Linked DNA regions of Homo sapiens: all the other regions are linked to region 1. Evidence: fine-mapped expression QTL. A gene starts in region 1. Each other region holds a variant in brackets. All regions are shown on one strand. Distances are from middle to middle.

Evidence for each region. PIP is the estimated chance that this variant, and not a neighbour inherited with it, causes the effect.
Region 2: its variant is fine-mapped to the expression of SLC16A9 in cerebellar hemisphere (GTEx, PIP 0.98).
Region 3: its variant is fine-mapped to the expression of SLC16A9 in thyroid (GTEx, PIP above 0.99).

Annotation. Positions count from the first base shown.
Region 1 is chr10:59,708,852-59,711,351 of GRCh38, reverse strand. It overlaps SLC16A9 (solute carrier family 16 member 9), which reads left to right and starts at 1,502. Exons shown (of 6, transcript NM_194298.3): 1 at 1,502-1,873. RefSeq lists silencers at 1,160-1,429, 1,660-1,729, 1,870-1,929 and an enhancer at 2,160-2,359.
Region 2 is chr10:59,747,199-59,750,049 of GRCh38, reverse strand. The region is part of intron 1 of MRLN (myoregulin); the gene reads left to right. Among named protein-coding and RNA genes, the nearest start is that of MRLN, 4.8 kb to the left of the region's middle. The variant T/C (reference allele first, on the strand shown) is at 1,024.
Region 3 is chr10:59,685,242-59,687,741 of GRCh38, reverse strand. All of the region lies in intron 1 of SLC16A9 (solute carrier family 16 member 9), which reads left to right. Among named protein-coding and RNA genes, the nearest start is that of SLC16A9, 23 kb to the left of the region's middle. The variant T/A (reference allele first, on the strand shown) is at 950.

The DNA.
Region 1 (2,500 bases):
ACAGAGCAAGACTCCATCTCAAAAAAACTATTTTATTGAAACATAGAGAAAAGAACACAAATTATCAGTGTATAGGTCAACGCATTACCACAAAGTGAACGCACTTGAGTAACCATAAACCAGGTAAAAAAATACAGCCTAAGAATCCCCTATTGTGTTCCCTTGCCTCTTTAGAAGTAAGTTTTTTATGGTGTTGACAGTACAGTTTCTCCATTTTTCCTTCCAGAACTTATTCTTGGGACCATGTTGCTCTCATTCTCACTGTTACTTTTCCCCTCTTCTCTTTTTCCTTCTTAGAACAAAACAAAATACTATTGACTAGCAGTGGTCATTCTCTTCACTCTAACCTGAAAGTCAATAAATTGAGTAGAAAGGACTGATGGGGGCCAAAAGGGCTGAACCTCCACCACATTTGTGCTGTAAGAAAACATGACATGGTTGCCTAGGCTCCACAGGTTTTTTAAACTCTCATCTCACACAAACTCCATGATACAGGCAAGATTCTTGTAATTTCATAGACAAGGAAACAGAGGCTCAGCAGCTTGATCAGCACTTCTGAAACCAACCCTTTGCCAGGTGTAGAGTCTTCGTCTAGGCCAGGACCTGTCACTTCAGTGTATAAAGGAAGTTCTCATCAAGGTGGTTGATGGCCGCAGTCCCCTTTAAGAAGTAGAAAGTGTGGTGCGGCTTCCCAGAAAAAACACAGAGGAACACAAAAAGTGCATATCACTTTGGAGGTTTCCCACGGCCGGCGAACCACTGGTACCTATGGACAGCCCCCAGCTGCTGCAGTGACTGAGGGATAAAACAGCCATCCATCTCTGCGCGCAAGCCCATTACCAAAGATAGTATTGCCAATGGTAGTATTGTTAGTGCAGTTCAACTGCAGGACAGACTGAACGTCCTTAGAAGCAGCCTGTGTGTGTGTGTGTGTGTGTGTGTGTGTGTGTGTGTGTGTGTGTGTGTGCACCGCAGGACGCCCTCCTTTCCCGCGGAGCTGTCACAAAGGACTGTACTTGGCATCCTCACTCCTCACTTCCCAGGATCACGGACTCCACAAAGTTCTGGTGCCCGTTTCTCCGGGACCACTGCCAGCTGAGCATACAGCTCCGGCCAGGAGGGCGCCAGCGGCCCCGGGAGCCAGGGAGACCAAGGAACACTCGCATTCATTTGTACACCCCGGCTCCCCCCAAACGCGCACGGCCCTTGGCGGGCTTGGCCAGGGCACGTGGTGGGCGGCGGGGGCACAGCGGCGCCTGGGGACGCGCGTGTGTGCGCACCGAGAGGGCGCCTGGCCGACGGCGCCCACCTCTCTCGTGGCTTTGGTGGCTCCAGGCCTGGTAGGGCCGGGGCCGCGGCTCGGGCAGTGCCCTCCCTACTCCTGGCCGGGCCGGGAGCAGCGGGAGCAGGCGCAGCGCCCCTACCGCCCGCTTTTCCGCCTCCATCTCCTCCGCCTCCTCCTCCTCCTTCCCCCAACCACCCGCGCAGTCACAACCGGTTCAGACTGGCCGGGGTGCCCCGCAAAGAGAGACAAGGGAGAAAAAGACAGCAGGGAAAACCCCGGGGAGGAGAAGGCGAAAGAGAAGGTGGAGCTCAGAGAAGGGGGCCGGCTCCCCAGCTCCATGTGGCCGCCGCCGCTGCGGGTCTGTGGGGGCAGAGGGCGGCGGCTCCCGGGGCAGCGCGTAGCGGGACCGATTGCCTAATACTCCGGCAGGGGCCGGGGCCGCAGCTGGCTCGGATAAATAGCCGCCCGGCTGGCCCGGAGCTGCAGGGGAGAGCGGCGGCCGCGATCCCCACCACACCACCAGCCCGGCCGCACGGGGCACTGAGCCGGGTGCTGAGCACCGGAGGCCCCGCCGAGGCCGGGACTCAGGTAAAGGGCTGGAGCTTGCGGGGAGGGTTCCAAAGGTGGGCAGCAGCCCCTGCTGCCCAGCGTCCTAGAGGCAAGAAGTAACTCCGACTCGGAGCAGTAGGAGGGGGCGGTGGAGCAGCATGGAACCGGGCTTTTGTCTGGGGTGTGTGCCGGGGGCTTCGAGTGTCCACGGTGCGCCCGCCCCTCGCCGCCCCCTTTTTGATGGGGTGCTTCTACAAAGTGGGCAAGTTTTCCCGGGAATCCGAAGGCGGCATTTTGTACGGAGTTGAAAGAGAGGGAGGGGGTCCTGGGGGTGGTACGGTGGCCCCCCAGAGAGCTGCCTCTGGACTCCAGAGAGCTTCCAGGGTTGCTGGTGGAAGAGCAGGGAGAGGTGCATGTGATGCAGGTGGGCCTCCATTTCCCAGAGGACCGAAAGGCCTCCAACTGCCTTGGTCCGGAGCGCGAGCAACCAGGTGCCCCCGGAGGGTTGGGAATGGGGCGCCGCGGGTACTCCTGACCTACGTGGAGCGCAGCGCGCAGGGCCGGCGGATTCTGCACGTTGGCGCCAGGTTCAGCACCACCCGGCAGCCCTGGGCGAGCGCGGGAGCCCAGCCTTCGCCACCGCCGCAGGAGGCACCGGCACCGCGC
Region 2 (2,851 bases), 39 kb before region 1:
AGAGCAAGGGAGGTTCCATTGAAGAGAAGAGAAACACAGTGGCTCCTGACAGGTCTGAAACCTGCTTTCTGACCTGGGGCGGGTGGGTGATCAGATGGACCCTCAGGAGTGCTGCCAGGCGAGCCAACACCCTGCTGCTCATGTGTCTGTGTGTCTGCCTCAGCTTCTCTGGGCTTTCCATCTCTTAAGGGCTATTTGTTTCCTCTCATCTAACTGAGCTACTCCATCCCTCTTCATGGCTGGGCTGCAAGGAAGTGGCCATCTTTCTGAATCTGCTGCTTCACTGAACTAGGCACTATTTATTGAGTGTCAGGCAGCATGCTGGGCTCTTGGCTTACTTTTTTTGTTTGCTTGTTTTGTTTTGTTTTTTTTTTGAGACCCAGGCTGGAGTTTAGTGGCACGATCTCGGTTCACTGCAACCTCTGCCTGCCAGGTTCAAGCGACTCTTGTGCTTCAGCCTCCTGAGTAGCTGAGACTACAGGTGCGAACCACCACGCCCAGCTAATTTTTGCATTTTTAGTAGAGGCAGGGTTTTGCCATGTTGGCCAAGCTGATCTCCAACTCCTGACCTCAGGTGATCTGCCTGCCTTGGCCTCCCAAAGTGCTGGGATTACGGGTGTGAGCCACCATGCCTGGCCTCTTGGCTTACATTTTTACCAGTCCTGCAATATTGCAGTGGCTAAGGCCGTGGGCATTGGAGCCAAACAAATCTCCATAAAAATCCTTGGTCACCTCTTAGTACGTGTGTAACGTTGGACAGCTATCTTAACCTCTCTGGGTTTCTGTATTTTTGAATAAGAAAATAGTGGTATGAATATTCCACCTCATAAAGTTTTATGAGATTAAAAATAAGTGTGTATAGAAGGCACTGAACTTTAGCTATGAATAAAGTCCTTTCAACCCCCCACAAGACAGATATTACTCTCTCTGTTCTCCAGATGAGGTGGCATCTGAGGTCAGGTGCTTTGTCCAAGGCTGCAGAGTTAATAGTGGTAAGAGCCAGGATCTCAAACTGGTTCCATC[T/C]GGTTCAGATCCTGTACTCTCTCCTCACTCCACCTTGCTGACTGATCATCTGTGACTAACATGTTTCTGTGTTCAGTCGAAGTCCACTTGTCAAATTCTCTGCCTTGTGGCCCTGACCTGCCACATTTTCTACTTTTCACTTGTGATTTGCTTTGATCTGGACTCTCTGGTTATACATGGGCTGGAATCAAAGATGTTGGAGGGTGATGAAGGTAGACTCTCCTCACGTAGCTGACTGGTGAAATGCAGAATCCAGTCTATCATAAATGTCAGAAAATTGCTGAGGCAATTGTAGCACTAGCTTTGGAAAAAGTCACTGTGTGACCTCAGACAAGTCTCTGCACTTCTCTGGGCCTTGTTTGTCAAATGAGAAGTTTACAAAAGCTCCAATATCTTTTCTATACCAACATTTCGTTAGTATTTCCAGTCTTTCCCCCTTATTGTTTTTCTTAGCTGGAAAGAGAATAATTGACCTGAGATCATGTCTTAATCAGGAAACAAGGTGCAAGAATAATGCCTGCCATCATTTAAACATACAGCCATATGCATTATTTAATTCCCATACAAGCTTTCTATGATATAATGTTCATGTCATTGATAAGTTAATTTCTCAGATTTGTGTTAAATTTCCTTTCTCATATAATTCAACTTCGGGCAGAATTGAAGGGGACCTTAATGAGCTCAGAAAATGCAGCTTGAACTCAAATTTTAGAAGCTTACAGAACACAAAAAATCCATTTACCATTGCATATGCCCAAATTTTCCCAAATTACTCGAATTTGAGTTTAGTGAGGGCAAACCTCCAGTATGCTGTAGAAACGGTGGCCATCCCAACAGATCATCCCATTCTAAAACCCTGCACGTCCTGTGCCAAGTTTTTCTTGCCTTCCAACAACTTGACTTGCTTCCCTAATTATAAGCAAAAAAAAAAAAAACAAAAGAAAAAGCATTAATAAGACATAGTTCTCATATGATTTCTCAAGTTTCTAAAAGACAGTTGTCTTGAACATAAACTTTCTGGGAAAGGGAGATGTTCTCCATAGGGAGACAAGTTGCAAGCACCCAACTTTGGGATTTTATTTTTAAAATTATTTGCCGGGAGAAGTAGACTTATTATGTATGTTTTTCTTGTTGTAATTGTCATTTGGACAAAGTGAACTTTCATTCTTCCCAGAAAGCTTCTGCTTTAAGTATAGTCAAGTCAGTATTTTTTGAGAACTAATTAGTGTCGGAGAGTGTGAGGCACTGGAATCCAGGATGAATAAGGCCGTCCCCTACCTTCTAGGAAAGCATCACTGACTATAGCGTATTGCATGTAAACAACCATGATACAGTGTGGTCACTGGCAACATGTTACGGACAAGTCGGAAATACATTCTGTCTAAGGAAGTCAGATTGGATAACAGAGGAGGTGAGATTGAATCTCAAAGGATGAATAGGAGTTTAACAGTTTTGCCTGTTTAGGTACTTAAAGAGAACTTGAGAAGAATGATTCATTCAAGGGCTACTGTCTAACAGTAATATGCTAAACTGTAATTAATAATAGACACTATCACTTACTAAATGTTTACTTTCTAGGCACAAGCATTATCTCATTGAATTATCAGGCTACCCTAAGAAGCAGGTACCATTATCCCCACTTTATGGAAGTGCCAACTGAGGCACAGAGTTAACGTAGCTTGCTTAAGATCTCATGCACAGTGGCAGACCTGAGATTCAAACTCTGTCAGTCTGATTCTAGACCCATCTCTCAAACACCATGTCTTGGCAGCATTCTTATTATTTCTCAGCTTAGTTAATGTTAAGGAGGTCAAGGGGAGAAACTTGT
Region 3 (2,500 bases), 24 kb after region 1:
CCATTCCTTGGCCTCCTGAAGTTCTGGCATTACAGGCATGAGCCACTGTGCCCAGCCCAAAGCTTTAAATAAAGTAAACACCATTTGGTTACCAACACTAGTAGAAATCAAAAACAAAAATAGACAAATTTTGCCTATGAAGTAAAAAATTCCTCCGCCAAAATAGACTAACATAGTCAAAACAATGCATGAACCAAGGAAATTTAATCCAATAATTCATGGATGCTTCAGTAGTAGAAAACATATATTTTATCATATTAAGAGTTATAAAGGGAAAATTGTATGACCATCTTCCTATACACTGGAAATACATTGATAAAATGTAATAACAATTATTTATAATAACACTCAAAAATATAAAAATGCAAATTACTTTCTTAACTTCGTAAAAGAAATCCAACAAAGCACCAGAGGCAACATCATGGTATTTGAGGGCATTCCCACTAAAGTTAAGAACAAGACAAAAATGTATACTTTTGTTAATTGGTATTATTCTGTATGTACTGTTCAATGCAAAGACAAAAGAAGGAAATTAGGGGCCAGGCACGGTGGCTCATGCCTGTAATCCTGGCACTTTGGGAGGCTGAGATGGGTGAAACACCTGAGGTCAGGGGTTCAAGACCAGCCTGGCCAACATGGTGAAACCCCGTCTCTACTAAAAATACAAAAAATTAGCTGGGCATGGTGGTGCCTGTAATCCCAGCTATTCAGGAGGCTGAGGCAGGAGAATCGCTTGAACCTAGGAGGCGGAGGTTGCTGTGGGCCGAGATTGTGCCATTGCACTCCAGCCTGGGCAGCAAGAGCGAAACTTTGATTAATCAGCCTATGTGCCTGACACTGGTCTTGCAGTACAACTGGAAACCAAAGCAAGGTGGAGGATGTCCTGAATTAAGATGTTTTCATCTCATTGTGTAACAGAGACAGCCAATAAATCTACCATTTGATTTTA[T/A]AAAAAAGGAAATTGGAAGTATAAAAATTTAAGACATATAAGGAGATAAAAAATTGTAACTGTAGGTGACTATATGACTGTATTGCATTGTGCATTGTATATACCCAAGAAAATCATCTGAAAATCCACCACAAATAGGAGAATTTTGTAAGGAAGTGGGATGTAAAATTAACATACAGACATCAATAGCTTTTAAGCATACAAACAGAAGACAAATAAATGACCCCAATTACAATATTAGCAGCGAGGATAAAATCTATAAAAATACAATACAATGAAATATTGAGGAACATTTTAAACACTAAGAACATAGATGGAGACTTGAACAAATGCAAAACATATTATGTTCTTAGAATGAGTTGACATCATAAAAGGTCAATTCTCCTTACATCAATTTTTAAATTTAACTCAGTCCTAATGAAAGCATCATCTGATTTCTTTTTGAACCAGACAGGCTGATTCTGAAGTTCATATAGAACAGAAAACATGAATAGCTACAAAATATTTCAAAAGGAGTGTAATTATAAAGACAGAAAAAGCCCCATTAGAGATTAAAATATGGTAAAAGGACTTTTATAAAAAAGATTCTGTGATGAAACAAATGTGGTAATGATGTGTGAATAGACAGACCAATGGAACAGAATAGAATATCCATATACACCTAAGAATTAGGAATTTCAGCTGGCTTTTCATCTCCAAAACGGTACACGACATTTATACTGTAAGAAATGCAAGTTGAGTGAGCCGAGATTGCGCCACTGCACTCCAGCCTGGGCGACAGAGCAAAACTCCATCTCAAAAAAAAAAAAAAAAAAGAAAGAAATGCAAGTTGAAACTATGATGAAATGCTATTTTAAAACCAAGAAATTTGCAAAAATCCAAAAGTTTCACAACACATTCAAAATCCTGGAGACAATATGAATTAGCTCAATGCTCTTGAACTTAATTTGGTAATACCTGGCCTCAATGATCCTCCCAACTCAGCTTTTTCAATATTTTCTGAAATTACAATTACAAATGTATATTCCTTTTGACTCAGCAATTCCTCTTTTGGATTTTACCTAACAAATATGCCTATAAGCAAAAAGATATATGAATATGTAAGGTTTTTCACTGCACATTGTTTTCCATTAAAGCCACAGGGACTGGTCGAACAAACTAAGATAAAGTCCCATACTGGAATACAGTGCAGAAGTAAGAAATGAATAAGGAAGGTCAGTATGCATTGATGTGGAAGATCTTCCAGATATTTGTCAAGTGAAAGAGAACAAGGCACATACCAATGTATATAATATGCTATTTTTTTGTGTGTAAAAAATAAGGGAAATCTATACTTGAGTTTGCCAGTGTATGCATAAAGAAACTTTAGAAGGCTATACAAGAAACAAGATGCATTGGTTACCTGTGGAGGAGATAAGGCTTAGATGGGAAATAGGTAGACAGGGGACTGTTTATCTTTTGTCTTTTTTTCATTATGAACCATGCAAGTGTTTTTGCCTATTCAGTGAGTAAATAAATAAGCAAGCATACAGCCATATGTATACATCCTAT